2 separate regions of the Homo sapiens genome follow, and region 2 is linked to region 1. Evidence: fine-mapped expression QTL. Tissue or cell type: whole blood. Region 1 holds a variant in brackets; the other region holds the start of a gene. All regions are shown on one strand. Distances are from middle to middle.

Region 1 (8,336 bases):
ATACTTATATGTCATATATTATATACACTTACATGTCATATATACATATAATTATATGATATATATACTTATATATAAATTATACTTATATATAAATTTGCATATTATATATATATTATATATAAAATTACTGCGATCAATGTACCTCTGCCCTAGCATGAGCTTGAGATGGCAGATAAGATCTGTGGTTCCCTCAGTCTCTCTTGTTTCTCAGGAGCTTCCCCTGGACTGAGAGGGCCTTGGGCCTACTACAATTGTAAATGCAAGGCTTCTATGGTGTTCAAAGCAACTGCAAATAATCCCAACACGAGAGGAAACACTAGGTCTGCTGGTCTTGCTGTGAAATGGTATCATACTGACTTTGGGAAATTCGAGGGATTTTTCAAGAGTACTCTGTTTTAATTAAATTCTCTGACATTAGACTACAGCATAAGATGTGACTTTGCTGTAATGTTTGCCTTTTGGGGTTGAAATAAAGAGCTTTAAAAACTCAAGTATTACTCCAAGAAAACAAACCCAGCATGGTTTGTGTGTATAATGTGAGACATGACTGAAGGCTTACAGAATCAGAGTTTTGGAGGCAGAAGGGGCCTTTCTTATCTCCAGCCTTCCTTCACTTTGCCCCCAGGTGTCTCTGAAGGCACCCAGTCCCTGGGAGATGGAAAGAGTTTGCTCCCAAAGCTACCTATAAGCCATAGTTGGCAATTCCATTTTTCTTGGGGTCTTAAGTTTTACCTTAAAAATTCATTTTAACCTTTCATTCAACTACTTCATATATTTTTAATAGAAAAATAAGACTTTAGGTTTCCCACCTACAAGGAATATGTAACACAATAACCCCCTGACTTTACAAATCTCCTTTGCACAGTCCCAGGGGTGAGTATATTTTAATGAGAGGAACATGGAAGGTTGACTTGCTGAAAAATGTGAAATTTTACAGATAAAGCAACTGAGATCAAGAGAGGGCAAGGAACTAGGTCAGGGTCACATAGCAAAACAGTGACATAAGTGAGGTTTCTGACAACTGACTTGATGACCTTCCTACCACTGGCTGCTTGTCTCTCACCACTTGGGAGTGAATGGCATTCTTCTACCTGTGGAACAGGAATTAAAAGAAATTAAAGAATGTGTAAGCAAAAACTCAGTTGTATGTAAGAAAACCCAGTTGCCCCAGAGGAAGAGAAAGAGGTGGAGTCCTTTAAAAATTAACTGCCTGTTTCTCTGTCTGTGGCTAGTGAGCCTTATCTCTCCCTTTCCCAGGCATTGTGAAGACCCTGTTTCTCTAGCTGTGCAGCTGCAAGGTCACTAGACAGATAAACCCAAGTTGCAAAACATGTTTTTCCTTGAAAAGTAAGAAATGATGTAATGCATGTCTCAATTGAATAACTGTCTTTGTTTCTCACTTCTGTAATATGCTTCCCCCTGAACAGATCTCTCCCTCCCCCCTCTCCACCCCCAAAATGCTTAAAAGGTAACCTGACTCTTTGTTCTGGGCTCAGTCCTTTGGATATTAATCTGACTGGGTTGGCTGGTGCACCTAAATAATACATATATCCTCCTCAACCCCATCGGTCTCTCTGATTCCTAAATCATCCCCAAACATTTCTGGTGGCCCATATGGGGATTGGAGATAACAGATTTACTGTCTCCTTTGCCCATGGGACTAGGGCCCTGGGGCTGTGGAAGACCTGGCATCCAAGGCATGCCATGGGGGAGTTTCACCCGGATGGAGACTGGCTCTCCCCGCATCCTGCCCAGCAGTGCAACTGAACCTGAGATGGGGCTGCAGGATGACACCAGCACTTCAGGAACCGCGGTAAGGAGAAAGGGCCCAAGGTAGGAAAGCCCATCCCATAGGGATGAAGGTGAGCTTGATCACCTCCCAGGGACCAACCACTCATCCAACCCAGAGTGGCTGGGGGTGGCAGGAGTGGCCCGCCAATTTGGATGAACCTCGTGTCCCCCTAACAAAGTGAAAGTGGTTCACTGGTGGAGAAAATGGGCCGATACAGCGGCAAGTGCAGCAAGGAAGAGTTTGCTGGCAGAATGGTAAGAGTGGCTTGCCACCCCAACTGGGAGTGTGTGGGTGTGTGCGGACCTACCCAGGACACCAGAGAGGTTCGTTTCCTCTGATGAAGAGTCCTGGGGTAGAAGTGGTGTGTGTATGTGTGTGAATGTGGGAATCTAACTAGGCTCACCCGGGACACGAGAGAGGGTTGTTTTGTCCGATGAGGAGTCCTGAGGCAAGGGAGGTGTGTGAAAGTGTGTGAAAGAGACGGTCTCAGGAGAGGCCAATGCGGGGAGTAATGTGGGGAGGCACAGATCCCTTAGCGCAGGCTGTGTGCTCCCAGGCGAGTGTGGGGGAAATCAGTCCTAGGATGTTGCATATGGCTGATAGGTTGAGCTTCACAGCTGCAGCAGTCTGTGGCAGGGAAAGGCACGTTCCTGGCTAAGCAGCGTCTGAAACTCCTGTAATAGGACCCAGTCTGGTGGACCTTAGAGTGAAAGTGCACCTCAAGGGAGGAAATGGGAGGAAAAGCATGGAAACCAACTCCTTTTGGAGTGCATGATAAAGAATTTTTAAAAAGGATTTAGAGCTGATTATGGGATGAAACTGGATGTTCAAAAGTTAAGGACATACTGTGAATTAGAATAGCCCTCTTTTAGTGATGGATGGCTGACCAATGGCACTATAGGTAAATTGGCTGTGTGTTTTAAGGTAGTGACTAGCCCTGGAAGACAGCCAGGGCATTCAGACCTAGTCTTTATATTGATTCATGGCTAAATGAATGCAGCCCTGCCTAGCAGTTTATTGTAGAACGTTCACAGCTCACACCCAGAGAAACCAGCTGCGCTGGCGGCTACGGAGTTAAAGGTAAAGTCACAGAGGCTTGTAGCACCAAAAGTGAAAAGTGAAAGCCAAAAGTAAAAGTAAAAATCAGCTGCCCTGGCAACTACGGAGACAAAAGAAAAGTCTCAGGAAAGAGAAAACCAGTTTTGCAAGAACCACAGGAGGGAATAGAGACCCCTCCTCCCTACATTCCAATCTACCTCCCTTTACCAAGGCTAACTGCCCCTAAGGAATTAAGTTCAAAGAGATACAGGCTCCCAGTCTCACCTGAGAAGGAGAAATTAGAGCTCCAGGAAGTTAAAGTGAAAGGCTGGAAAAGTCAGGGAGGGTGTCTCAGGTCTGGTCACGCCCAAGTTATGCTTA[T/C]GCCTCTTAAGAGGACAAGAGGACACCCACTAGGACCCAGATGATGCAGTCCAGCTTCAGCACCTACAAAAGTGCCAAGAAGCCCTTCTGCAAAGGCTAAAGGCTGGTAAAAGAAAAAGGCAACCAATATAAAAAATCTCAGAGGTGCTCCAGGGTGCAGATAAAAGCACCAGCCAGTTTTAAGAAAGACTTTTTGAGGCATTTTGGTTGTACACTCTGTTTAACCCTAAGGCTGCTGAAAATCAGTGCATGGTGGACACAGCATTTGTAAGGCAGGCCCAAGGAGATATCAGGCACAAATTGCAGAAGTTAGAAGCTCCGTAGGTGTGAATGCAACTCAGCTTATTAAAGTGGTTACAAGGTGTACATTAACTGAGTTCAGGAGGCAGAGAAGAAAGCTGATCAGAGGCTTAACAAAGGCTAATTTACTAGCAGCAGCCCTTATGGGAAGAGAAGCTGGCTTTGCAAGGAGGCATGGTCGTGGGCGTGAACACAGTCATGGAAAAGGCTGGTTTGGACAGGAGTTTGAAAGCTGGCCAAGGCTAGAGAGAGATTAATGTGCACGGTGCAAAAGGAAATGACACTAGAAGAATAAATGCCCCAAAAAATAAATAAATAAAATAAGGAGAATGGTCAAGGCCATGGTATAAAAAAAAACCCTCCAGCCAAGGGCTACTGCACCCAGGAGAAACCCAAGACTCCCTGCACCTGCTGTGAAAGGCAGGACATAAAGTGTCAGAAAAAAGCTCAAATCTGCTCTAAAAGTCTCCAGTATTTAAGCCTTTATATAAGCCAAGAGGAAAGATGGCTTAGTAGTAAACAAAAGCAATCTGTTTGTGCACTTCCTACTCCAACCACCTGGTGTCAAATAAGAGAGTTCCTAAGGGCAGCAAGGTTCTGCTGCATTTAGATCCCAAATTTCTAGCTTATGGCTAAGCCACAAAGAGAAGGAAAGAAAGAGCCCCTCCTCTAGGAGGCTAACCAGGAGAAGACTTTTAAAGAAATTAAAAAAAAAAAAAAAGCCTTGACTCAGGCCCCAGCTTTAGGACTGCCAGATCTAACTAACTAAGCTTATCTTCTTGTATGCCCATAAGTGAAAGGGAGGCCATGAAGGTTCTAACTCAAGCCATAAGGTCATGGCATCACCCAGTGACATACTTATCCAGGCAATTAGATTCTGTGGCACTTCACTGGCCTCCTTGTTTTAAAGCAATAGCTGCCACTGCCCTACTGGCTCAATAAGCTAACAAACTAACTTTAGAGACTGTGAATACCCTAAACCCGGCTACCTTGCTCCTCATCAAGTCAGTACCAGGAGACCCCCTTCATTGCTGTGTAAATGTGATAGATGAAGTGTTCTCAAGCCAGAGAGATTTGACAGATAGGCCCCTTGGGGAGCCAGACATAGAATATTTTACTGATGGAAGCAGTTTCATACGAAAGGGAATCTGCTGAGCTGGGTATGCAGTGGTGACTTTGGACTCAGTAGTAGAGGTGCAGTCTTTGCCTACAGAAACTTCTGCTTAGAAAGCAGAGCTAATAGCTCTGACAAGAGCTCTCTGGCTAGCAAAAGACCAAAAGACAAATATTTACACAGATTCCAAATATGCTTCTGACACTTTCCATGTTCATGAGGCTATTTACAAAGAAAAAAAAGGCTTTTAACTGCTGAAAGTAAAGAAATAAAGTACAAGGAAGAAATTCTACAGCTCTTAAATGCTGTATAGGCCTTAAAAGATGTGGCAGAGATGCACTGCAAGGGGCACCATAAAGGAAGAATACTAAAGGCTAAAATAAATAAATAAATAAATAAATAAATAAATGAGACAAAGAGGCAAAGCAGGACAACCCCACCTTCTAAAGAAGAAGCCTTAGCTATGCCTCTCCTCCCAGAGATTCCCCTTCTGTAGATCCCAAGCTACACTCCAAATGAAAGGGCTTGTTTTGCCCAGAAAAATATCAACTACATTGAAGAAGGATAGTAAAAATTTTCCAGTGGGAGGCTAGCCATCCCTGAAACGGTGGCCCCCAGATTTGTAAAACAGTTCCACCAAGGAACTGACCTGAAAAAAAAACACACAAAAAAACAGCACTAAAGACATTATTAAGGCATCATTTCTATGTGCCATGGCTCACTGCTATTACTCAAGCCATTTGTAAATGAACAATATTTAACTTGTGTTCAGAACAATCCATGACAAGGGCTTACTCCACCCCCAGGAGTTCAGGAAACAGAAGCCATGCCATGTGAAAAACTGCTTATGAACTTCACCGAATTACCCTGTGATGGGGGCTATCAGTACATGTTGGTGTTCACCTTTTCAGGATAAGTCAAGGCCTTCCTCACCGGGACAGAGAAGGAACTAGAGGTGACCAAAGTGTTGTTAAAAGACATTATTCCCAGATTTGGACTGCCTCTAACTCTAAGATCTCACAATGGACCAACATTTGTGGCTGAAATAGTTCAGGACTTAACTTGACTATTAAAAATAAAATGGAAATAACATATAGCCTACAGACTGCAGAGCTCAGGTAAAGCGAAGAGCATGAACCAGACACTAAAACAACTGCTGAAGAAATTGTGTCAAGAAACTCATCAAAGGTAGGATCAGGTCTTGCCCATGGTCCTCCTCCAAGTCAGGTGCACCTCCACCAAGCAAACTGGGTATTCCCCCTCTGAGATTTTGTTCAGCCGGCCACCCCCCATCATCTGTAGACTAGAAGAAGTAACTTTAAGAAGGCAAATGCAGACTTTAAGTATGGCCATGCAAAAATGCATGGCTAGGTATAGAAAAATGCCTATAAGTCTAACAGACCCAGTACACCCTTTCAAACCTAAGGATTTTCTTTAAGTTAAAAAATGGAATCCAACCACTCTAGGACCCATACAGGATAGGCCTCATATTGTAATCATGTCTACTTCTACTGCTGTTAAAGTTGCAGGTGTCACACCTTGGATTCACCATAGCTGGCTGAAACTAGCAGCAGCAGTGACTCCCGACTATGACCAGTGGATTAACCAACAAGACCCTGATTGCCCCACCCGAATAGACCTACGGCGAATCCCAACCACCAGTAAGAAGGACAACTGCCCTGCTCTGACCACACTGGAGGCTGGTCAGTCTACACATGGCTGAAGCTTGAAGATCTTGCAAGCTCTGCTCTAGTCACATCCTGGAAGCTGACTAGTCTACACACAGCCGAAGCTAAGAGGACCATCTCTAGATAAGTAAATGTAGATAAAATTTATAAGCCTAGTTATAATTGTTCTGTTGTTACATTATTACTGCAAATGCTGCAAATGTCCATGCCCAGAGGAAGGTTTGCCATTCCTATGTGTAGTGTAAGCATGTTTCTATTACATACACTAATGTTGTTACCATTTCTGCCTATACTAGAAGGGGAGAAATCTCTAGAAGGATGCCCACACTGTGTACATACTACCTGGGTAAGGAATACCATAGTTAAAACTCTACTGTACCATACCTACAGTACAGGAACCAAGTTAGGAACCTGCACATACAACCAGACCACCTATTCGGTCTGTGACCCAGGAAATAATCAGCTATATGTATGTTATGACCCTAAGCTCTTACCCTATGAATTCTGGTTTGAAATACATATTAAATCAGAGGGAGAAAAAGAAGGAGAGTTATAGCTCGAACAAAAGAAGCCCCTCCCTCCTGTAAAGGGCCTATTTCCTTGTACTTTGATGCCTGCTATGCTGCATATGTTCACAATCCTAAAAAAAAACAGAAGCAGTCTGCAATGGTGTAACACAAGAGAGGCTTAGCAGGAGCAGCCCTAAGCATCTGTACAAAGAACCACAAATCGGATGCCCAGACTGTAACATTCAGTGGTCCACACTAACACAACTCCAATATTTATATTCAGGAAGGAGTGCTCTGCTAAGTAGTATGTTAACCAAACCAAACTGTAAGACAAGAACATGCAATCCTTTACATTTTACTATCTTAAAGCCAGAGATACCTTTCTGGTCTACAGGACAGACAGCACTATAACGACTTGATAGACTAGGAGCAGGCCTTGGAGTTCCACTACTAATTGTCAAAAAGACTAAAAGGACTCAAATGCATCCAACCCCGCAATTCTGGGTCCATAATCATTCTATAAGCATTTGGATAAGCCAGTGCCTGAGCTTCCCCCACCAACCAAAAACTTATTTGCTCAACTAGCTGAAAACATAGCTGGCAGCTTAGGAATTTCCTCATGCTATGTACGTGGAGGAACTAATATGGGGAACCAGTGGCCATGGGAGGCAAAGGAATTAATGCCACAAGATAACTTCACTTCGCTTAACCCTGCCAGTGAACCAACAGCCTCAGCCAGTGTTTGGTTGTTAAAAACCTCCATAATTGGAAAGTACCGTATCGCCCGTTGGGGAAAGGCTTTCACAGAGGCAGTAGGAGAAATAACCTGCCTAGGGCAACAGTATTATGATGAGACTAAAAACAAAACTCTATGGAGAAGCACCCAGAATTACTCCTACTTACCAGATCCAAATCCTTTATCTCCATTCTCTACCCTAAGCCACACTTGGCATCAACTAGAGGTTCCAAATGCTTCGAAAGCACCCTCTGGCCTATATTGGATCTGTGGAGCATGGGCATATTGGCAACTGCCAGCTAAATGGACAGGAGCATGTGTGTAGTAACAATCAAGCCATTCTTCTTTCTAATTCCTCTAAAGCAAGGGGAACTCTTATGGTATCCAGTTGATGATGAAAATAAAAGAAGAACTAGAAGAGCATAATCACAAAAATAGACACAAATGTCAAAAAGGATGTGGACATAGGAGACTGGAAAGATAATGAATGGCCTCCTGAAAGAATAATTAAATATTATTGGCCAGCTACCTGGGTGCAAGATGGGTCATGGGGTTACCACACCCCAATCTATATGCTCAACTGCATCATAAGGTTGCAGGCAGTCTTTGAAATTATAACCAATGAAACATCAAGGGCACTAGATTTATTGGCAATACAAGCAACACAAATGAGAAATGCTATATATTGAAATAGATTGGCATTAGATTATCACTTAGCCTCTGAAGGAAGAGTATGTGGAAAATTTAATTTAACCAACTGTTGCCTAGAAATTGC
Region 2 (8,336 bases), 20 kb after region 1:
TGGCTCTTAGTTGATTGTCTCCTGGATCTGGGAAGGAAGGAAAGAAAACAAAGAGGAAATGGGGTTCTTTATAGAATGTGGATTTTTCCTACAAGAGACTTTGCAGGGCAATTTCAAGGTATGGCAAGGAAATATATTTTTGGGTAAAACATTTTGATTTTCTTCTTGTTATGCCAGAGTCTGATTGGAAAGTAAGTCTTGATATACAGGGTTAAATAAAACCCATCTGATGAGAATTTATGGTTTGTAGGGCATAACTCCCTAAGCCCCTTAGATAGGAATTTCAGCAAGATAAAAAATTAGAGCTTAGGCCAGGCACAGTGGCTCATGCCTATAATCCCAGCCCTTTGGGAGGCTGAGGCAGGTGGATCATGAGGTCAGGAGTTTGAGACCATCCTGGCTAACATGATGAAACCCTGTCTCTACTAAAAATTTGAAAAATTAGCCAGGCATGGAAGTGCCTGCCTGTAGTCCCAGCTACTGGTGAGGCTGAGGCAGGAGAATCACTTGAACCTGGGAGTCGGAGGTTGCAGTGAGCCGAGATCATGCCACTGCACTGAAGCCTGGGCAACAGAGCAAAATTCCGTCTCAAAAAAAAAAAAAAAAATTCAGATCTTAGTCCTCACTGCTAATGTCACTGCACTTTCCAATGGACTGGGATGTGGCATTGAGTTCTTCCCTAGAGTAGCATTCAGGACAGCTGATACCAATGCATCAGAGTTGACACATAAAATTAAACCTCATTGCCCCTTCAGATCCTGAAATATGCTGCCAACATGACAGCAGGAACCTCCTTTATTAGGATCCTTCTTGAAGTTTGATTGGAAAAAATGGCTTAAGCTGGATCCTTTCTTTCCATGTAAATGTTGACTGAAGAAAGCTATTTCTCAAACAGCTTTGAGATTGAAGCACTTTATCATCATGAACATTTAAGTTCCCTCTTGCTCACTTTCAACAATGATAAAATACCGGCTGACAACAGACCCATATAATAGACAATAGAACTAGTAATGGCCAGTGATGCTGGGTCTTTATTTCAACTTGTTGTCAAGTGGCTGGAGCTGAGAATTGTCTGCTTTATTTAAATGAGATGTTCTCCAGTTTGATGCAGTTCCTACCACTTTATTTTGTCCCTCCTGCCTGCTTCTCCACTTATTGTAGCTGTCCAGCCCCTGTGTATATTTGAGCTTAAAATCTCTAACCTAGGCCAACATCCCAGGAGAGGCAGGAATTTCCCCAAAGTCATGATGCAATTTTAATATTGTAAAAAGTAAAATAGAGGTTCCTCTTCAAAGACTTTCCTCCCCATCTAATTAGGAATAAATAGTAACTTCTCTTAAAAGCAAAATTTATTCAAAGTCCTGTGCTAAGATTCTTAAATATCTGCTAACCGTAATAAAGAAATCAATGTACTTTATGTTCTTAGCTCCCACAATTTAGCCTAAATATTTGCCCTGGCATTCTTATACTGGTCCAAGCAAGCATTAGGCCATAGCCTGTTCCTCTTGCTTATTTAAAAGTGTTTTAATCTTTCTCAGCATTTCACGAGTTACTTCCTCTTTCCTTTGTTCTCCTCTACCTTTGCCTCTTTAAAAAAGTTCTAAGTTGCTAGCCAATCGGGACAAATACAGAATGTGAGGTCCCGTTCCAGCCAGTGGAAACCGGACACAGCAGTAGGGTGGATGCGTCAGGTTATAAATGACCCTGTCTCCTTTGTTCTATGTACTCTCCTGGCAAAACTGCTGGCAAGTGTACCATTTCTGCAGGAAGTAAAAATGGCCTTGCTGAGTAAATTAAATTTACATTCAAGTCCTATTTCTTTACGGCACCAAGGAACAAACATTTCAAACAATATTGTAGCCAAGTTGGTTCTAGAAGCCCATCACCTCTGTTACATTTTCCAACACACACCTCCTTCCACAGGCATGAGCTTAGTTTGGGTGAGAATATCAAACTCAGTTGCAATTTTTCTATGCAGGTGTCTATATGACCTCAGGGTCTTCCTTAAAATACAAACTCACCATTTTTCCTGAAGACAGTCCAAACAACCCCTTACTAAGTGACTAAAGACCAAAACAAAAGGGAGAGATATAGTGAGGGAATCCATTAACCAGTTATCATGGTTTGAACTGTGTCCCCCATGAATGTATGTGGTGAAGTACGAACCCCAATATTTCAGAACACCACTGTATTTGGAGATTGGGTCTTTAAAAATGTAATTAAGTTAAAATGAGTTATTAGGGTGGGCCCTAATCCAATATGACTGGTGTCCTTATAAAAAGAGGAGATTAGGACACAGACACACACAGAGGGAGACCATGTGAATATGAAGATAGCCAAGGAAAAAGACCTCAGAGAAAACCACCCTGATCTTGGACCTCCAGCCTTCAGAACTTTGAGAAAATCAATTTCTGTTGTTTAAACCACTCAGTCATTAGTAATTTTCATGGCAGCCCTAGCAAACCAATGTACTCCTCTTGATCAAATAAAGAAGAAATGACTTTGGCATCATCTCACAAATGTGTTTGTGATTCTAATTTAATCTTCGTCACATGAGAGGGCCAAACACAGTGCCCAGCTGTGGAGAACTGTGGTAGCTGAAACAGCATGGCCCTAGAGATCAAACAACACGGGCTCAAATTCCAGCACTTTCATTTCCCACCCACATAACTTGGGGCAATTTATTTAACCTCCCTATAAAAACATAGGCATATTGGCAGCACCTATTGCCTGAAGCCATGGTGATAAATGCACGATATCCTGCAAAAAGCATTCAGCACGGACAAGTATTTTAGAAATAAGAGCTGTTGCTAGTTAACACACTTTATAGGGAAGCTCTTATAGAGTAGTTAAGCCAGAGGAAAAAAATTTCCTTAACTTTTGGAGTTAAGGTCTAAAGAGAAGGAATGGGGATGAATACCTGAACATAGACACCATAGGACTGGTATATGTCCAGCTTTTTCACTGATTATCTGTCTATCTATCTATCTATCTATTACCTATCTATTATCTATCTATCATCTATTTATCTATCTATTACCTATCTATTATGTATCTATCGTCTATCTATCTACCTATTACCTATTTTCTATCTATCTATCATCTATCTATCTATCTATCTATCTAGATATATAAGAACCTGATCTCCAAGTGTTGAGGACTGAAAATCAGATATCTATATGTCTATGTCTGCGTCTATCTCTATCTCTGTATGTATGTTAAGCTTCATTTCTAAATCTATTTCTGTATCTATATACCAATATTTACATTTATACCTATATCACTATCTGTGTATATCTATACATTAATATTAATGTCTATAACAATAACACATGTACACTGTAGTCATGTGCCACAATATGATGTCATTGTCAGTGATGGATCACATATACAGAGTGGCCCATACAATTATAATGACATATTTCTACTGTACCTTTTCTATGTTTCAATACACAAGTACTTACCATCGTGTCATGACTGCCTACAGTATTTAATACAGCAACAAGCTACATAGGTTTGTAGCCTAGAAGCAATGGGCTATAGCATATCGCCTATATGTGTAGAAGACTATGCTTTGTGGGTTTGTGTAAGTACACTCTATGAGTTCCCATAATAACAAAATCACCTAACAATGCATTTCTCAGACGTATCTTGGTTGTTAAGTGATGCATGTCTCTATCTCTATCACTATCTCTGTCTCTATCTCTATCTCCGTCTCTGTCTCTGTTTCGATATCTATTTCCATCCACATCTGTCTTCAGATTTGACTTCACAAAGCTTAGTTTGTCTATTTCTCACCGTGCTGGACATAGTAAGTGCTCAACAAAAAGTTAGATTCTTCCCTTCTTTGTCATAATTCAGAAAACTGAGTGATGAAAGTCAGAAAGAGAAAAGCCAGTGTGCCCACAAATTATCTGAGTTATAGAAAAATGTATTTTTTCTTTCTCAAGTATTTACTATAGATGTACCATGTACAGTTTTAGATACTATTGGAGATTAATTAAACTGAAAGAGTTCCTACCCTGTTAGAGCATATCATTAAAGCACATCCTATGAAATCATTTTAAAGAACAATTTTCTGAACTGCTTAAAGTGCATTCTGAAAGCAATTTGACATGGTAGCTTTGAGAGGCAGCTGGGCTCCCCACTGTATTCCCAGATACATAGTGCCTTGAACAGCTCCTGCAACTAAGCTTTGACTTCACAGGACTTGGGACTGATAAAGCTATTTAATGAAGCAACATACTTACTGTGTTATAGGGTATCCCAGAGTTACAGAGCCAGGGCTAGATGTTTGTCTCTGTTGTCTAGCAGCTGGGTCTTTGGTGCTGTTCATGTCTCTGAACTTAAGCGCACAGTAGTAATACCTTCTTCCCAGCTCCCCATAAGGATTAGTGTGATAATTTACTTGCTGGCACTGAATGAAGTGCACGGTAAGGACTCAATAAATGTTGAGGTACCTTTTAACTCCCAGCAAATTCTGAAGCCAACCCCCTCCCCATTAGATGTTAACCATTTTTTTTGAAACTGTCACCTGGACTGGAGTGCAGTGGTGTGATCATAGCTCACTGCAGCCTCAATCTCCTGGGCTACAGTCATCCTCCTGCCTCAGCCTTTCAAGTACCTGGGACCACAGGCATGTATTACTATGCTTGGATAATTTTTTTTAGAAGGCATTCACTTTATAGAAAGTGAGCCAACTTCTGCATAGATAGAAAAGATTTCCTTCAAACATTCATCTCTGACTTTGTGCCTGTCTCCCACGGCTCACCACATTCAGAGCTGCCTGACACTAAACCAGTCCCCATTTACATGCCAGCCACTGTGCTAAACATATTACATGTACGTTCCTATTTATTCCTCTCACCCAATATCACCATTGTCATTTTGCCTCTAAAATGAAGTGCCAAGAAGTTAAGTGACTTGCCCAAGGTCACTCAACTTAAAAGTAGCATTGCCAGAACTTAAAATTGGATTACACACACACACACACACACACACACACACACACACACACACACACACAGATAGAAGCTGACCTTCACCTCTGTCTTACCTGGTACTGTTTAGGACGTAGCTGAACTAGGTCCCTGGTAGGTATGGAAAAGGAGGTTGAGCTCTCTTTTGTAGGTTCAGTTCTCTCTGATCAGGTGATCCGCAGGATTGTGCACCCAGCAGAACTTGGCTTCTGGCCACAGCGAAGGGGGACCTTGAACAGAGAACTTGTTAGGAATTGGGTAATTCAGTAGGGGGAGGAGATGCTCAGGTAAAATAGGACAGAAACAATTACAGGCCTCCACGGAGAGATAATCACTTAGAAAACAAACCATGTGGGCCGGGCGCAGTGGCTCGCGCCTGTAATCCCAGCACATTGGGAGGCCGAGGCGGGCGGATCACGAGGTCAGGAGATGGAGACCATCCTGGCTAACACGGTGAAACCCCGTCTCTACTAAAAATACAAAAAATTAGCCGGGTGTGGTGGTGGGCGCCTGTAGTCCCAGCTACTCGGGAGGCTGAGGCAGGAGAATGGCGTGAACACGGGAGGCGGAGCTTGCAGTGAGCCGAGATCATGCCACTGCACTCCAGCCTGGGAGACAGAGACTCTGTCTCAAAAAAAAAAAAAAAAAGAAAAACAAACCACGTATACGAAGTCACCTCCAATTCCGGTGGCATGGCTAGGGGTGTGAATGAACTAGATCCAATGGTGCATTTTCACTAGTTCTCTGTGGCTAACCTGCTCCCCCTTCCCAGCCCTACATCACCATAGTCTCCCTTAAATGACAGCTGAGAGTCAGTGTAGCCTAATGGATAAGAGCCTGGGCTCTGGAGGTCTGGAGGCAGAAAGGTCTGAGTTTGAGCCTTAGGTCTGCCACTTAACCTCCATGTCATCTTTGTGGACCTTCTTGCTCTGGGCCTCACCTCCCTTAATTGGTTTTCGGTTGCTTTTGAGACAGAATCTCATGCTGTCACCCAGGCTGGAATGCAATGGCATGGTCTTGGCTCACTGCAACCTCCGCCTCCCAGGTTTAATTGAGTCTCTTGCCTCAGCCTCCCAAGTAGCTGGGATTATAGGTGCCCGCCACCACACCCAGTTAATTTTTGTATTTTTAATAGAGACAGGGTTTCATCATGTTGGCCAGGGTGGTCTTGAGCTCTTGACCTCAGGTGATCTGCCCGCCTCAGCCTCCTAAAGTGCTGGGATTACAGGCATGAGCCACAGCACCCAACACCTACCTTATTTGTAAAATAGGAATGATAACAACAATACCTACCTCCCAGGGTGTTTTCTTTGCTTCTTCATTTGTTTGTTAGAACTAGATGAAATAATTTATAAAAAGCATGTAGCACACGGTGCTGGGCATAGTCGATGTTGGCTCTTTTTATTCACTTGGGATTCTCAGAGGAACAATTTGGTATCCTGGTAAAATGCAGGGTCTTTGGAATCCCAAAGTCTTGAGCTTAATTAAGTCCAACCTCAGGCACTCACAAGAAAGCTCTTGGGTGAACCATTTTCCTTTCAAAGCTTGGTCTTGACATTTGTAAAATGAAGCAGGATTTGTTAATAAGATTTGTTGCATGGGATCATTGAAAGGATTATGTGACACCAAGCCTGTAAAGCACCTGGACCAGGCATTTAGATGGAGGGTTGATAGTGATATTGCATTGGATAAACCAAGGTAGTCATAGGTAGCGGCTTGTACTATGACTTTTCTACTGGAGCCATTTTTGGGGCATTGTTAGAGAATGAGGGATCTCCAGTATTTTCATTGAAGCTGGGAAGAAATTATTTCTGATCAAAGTCATGGCTAAAGATTTCTGGAGACACCCAGGACATTCCTGACAGGACCGTGTGGCAAGCTAGGATAGTTTGGGTTTTTAATATTTAGCTTTCTGTGGCCAGTCACTGGAGAGGTGAGAAGGCAGGGCTAGTTGACTGGCCATGGTAAGCTAAACCTTAAACACCCAAAGCATCAAAGTACCAAAAAACAAAGAAACGAACAAACAAAACAACTAACCAAAAAACCTCTGTTACTAAAGAGAAGGAGCAGCCACTTTTCGGAAAAGAATGGAGACGGGGGAAAAGCCCTTGACACACTCTCTGCATCTGAGTAGTTCTCCCCTGTGGAACTGCAACATGAAGGCATGGACAAGAAGACAGGCTCTGGCACCAGGCAGCCTGGGCTTGAGTCTAGCTTTTACCAGTTACCAGCTCTGTGACATTGAGCAGATTTCTTATCCCTCTTTTCCTCAATTTTCTCATCTTTAACAAGAGGTATACAGCGGACAAAGGAAAACTCTCCAAACATTCTATGTGTGCTCCTCTTTCATTTCCCAACCTCTCTTAAAGCTAAAGTGAGGCCATTAAACTCTAGTTCTGAACAATAAACTCCATGTGGAAGTGTTACAAGTCACTTCTGGCCTAGGGCATTTATTTAAGAGCAGGTATGAGTTTTCTGTACTCTCTTCCCCTGATTCAATGCTCCTGGAAACCATATATGGAGATAGTGACATCGTAAAATGGCAAAGTCTCTATCAGCCTTGTTCTCTGAGTGACTTCATGTAGCTAAATATCCTACCAACCTCAGCTTTTTGAACTTGCTATCGTCTGCTTATTATAGAAAACCTATGATACATTCATTCATTCAGTGGATATTTAAGGAACATTTAGGCGTGCTTTAAACATGTAAGACAAGGTTGGTGCTCTCAAGAGGTTTACATGCCTATGATAGAAAGGCAAAAGCCAATAAGCAAAAAGTCAATTAAATAAGCAAGAGGATTTCAAATGGTGATACTGCCAAAAAGAAAACAGAACAGGGCAATATGATGGAGAGAGTGTGGGGAGGTGGCTAAGGATGTTCTCCCTTAAGAGGTGACATTTTGAGACCTGAAGGAGGAGAAGCAGCCAGCTAGGGAAAAAGAACTCCAGGCAAAAGCCACAGCAAGTGCAAAGCCTGAGGCTGACATTTTCAAGGCATAGGTGGGGGACTGGGATGGCAGATTACTGAGTGAGAAGTATGATAAAGTGTGAGGTCAGAGACACAAGCAGGAGACATGCCATTAAGGATCTTTATGGACATAATAAGGAGTTTGGATTCTATTCTAAGTGCAATGGGTGGGTGCATGGAAGTCTCGTGAAGATTTTAGGAGGAAAGAGACATGATCCTATTAAGTAACTCATTTTCTTGGTGACTTGATTTTGAAATAAAGTAATACAGGAAAGTAAAACATTCAGAAAAAGAGGTCAGATTTGCATTTAGAAAGCCCACTCTGGCAGTTCTGTGGAGAAGATATTTTAAGGAGGCAAGAATGGATGTGGGGATGCCAGTCGGGAGGCT

The links.
Region 2: ACSM1 starts here. The variant in region 1 is fine-mapped to the expression of ACSM1 in whole blood (TOPMed, PIP above 0.99). The same link has a PIP of 0.9 or more in esophagus muscle, sun-exposed skin and tibial artery.

The regions. Positions count from the first base shown.
Region 1 is chr16:20,673,007-20,681,342 of GRCh38, forward strand. The region is part of intron 4 of ACSM1 (acyl-CoA synthetase medium chain family member 1); the gene reads right to left. It also overlaps a transcript of ACSM3 not described here. Among named protein-coding and RNA genes, the nearest start is that of ACSM1, 21 kb to the right of the region's middle. The variant T/C (reference allele first, on the strand shown) is at 3,215.
Region 2 is chr16:20,692,580-20,700,915 of GRCh38, forward strand. ACSM1 (acyl-CoA synthetase medium chain family member 1) reads right to left here and starts at 5,101. Exons shown (of 14, transcript NM_001318890.3): 1 at 5,057-5,101. It also overlaps a transcript of ACSM3 not described here.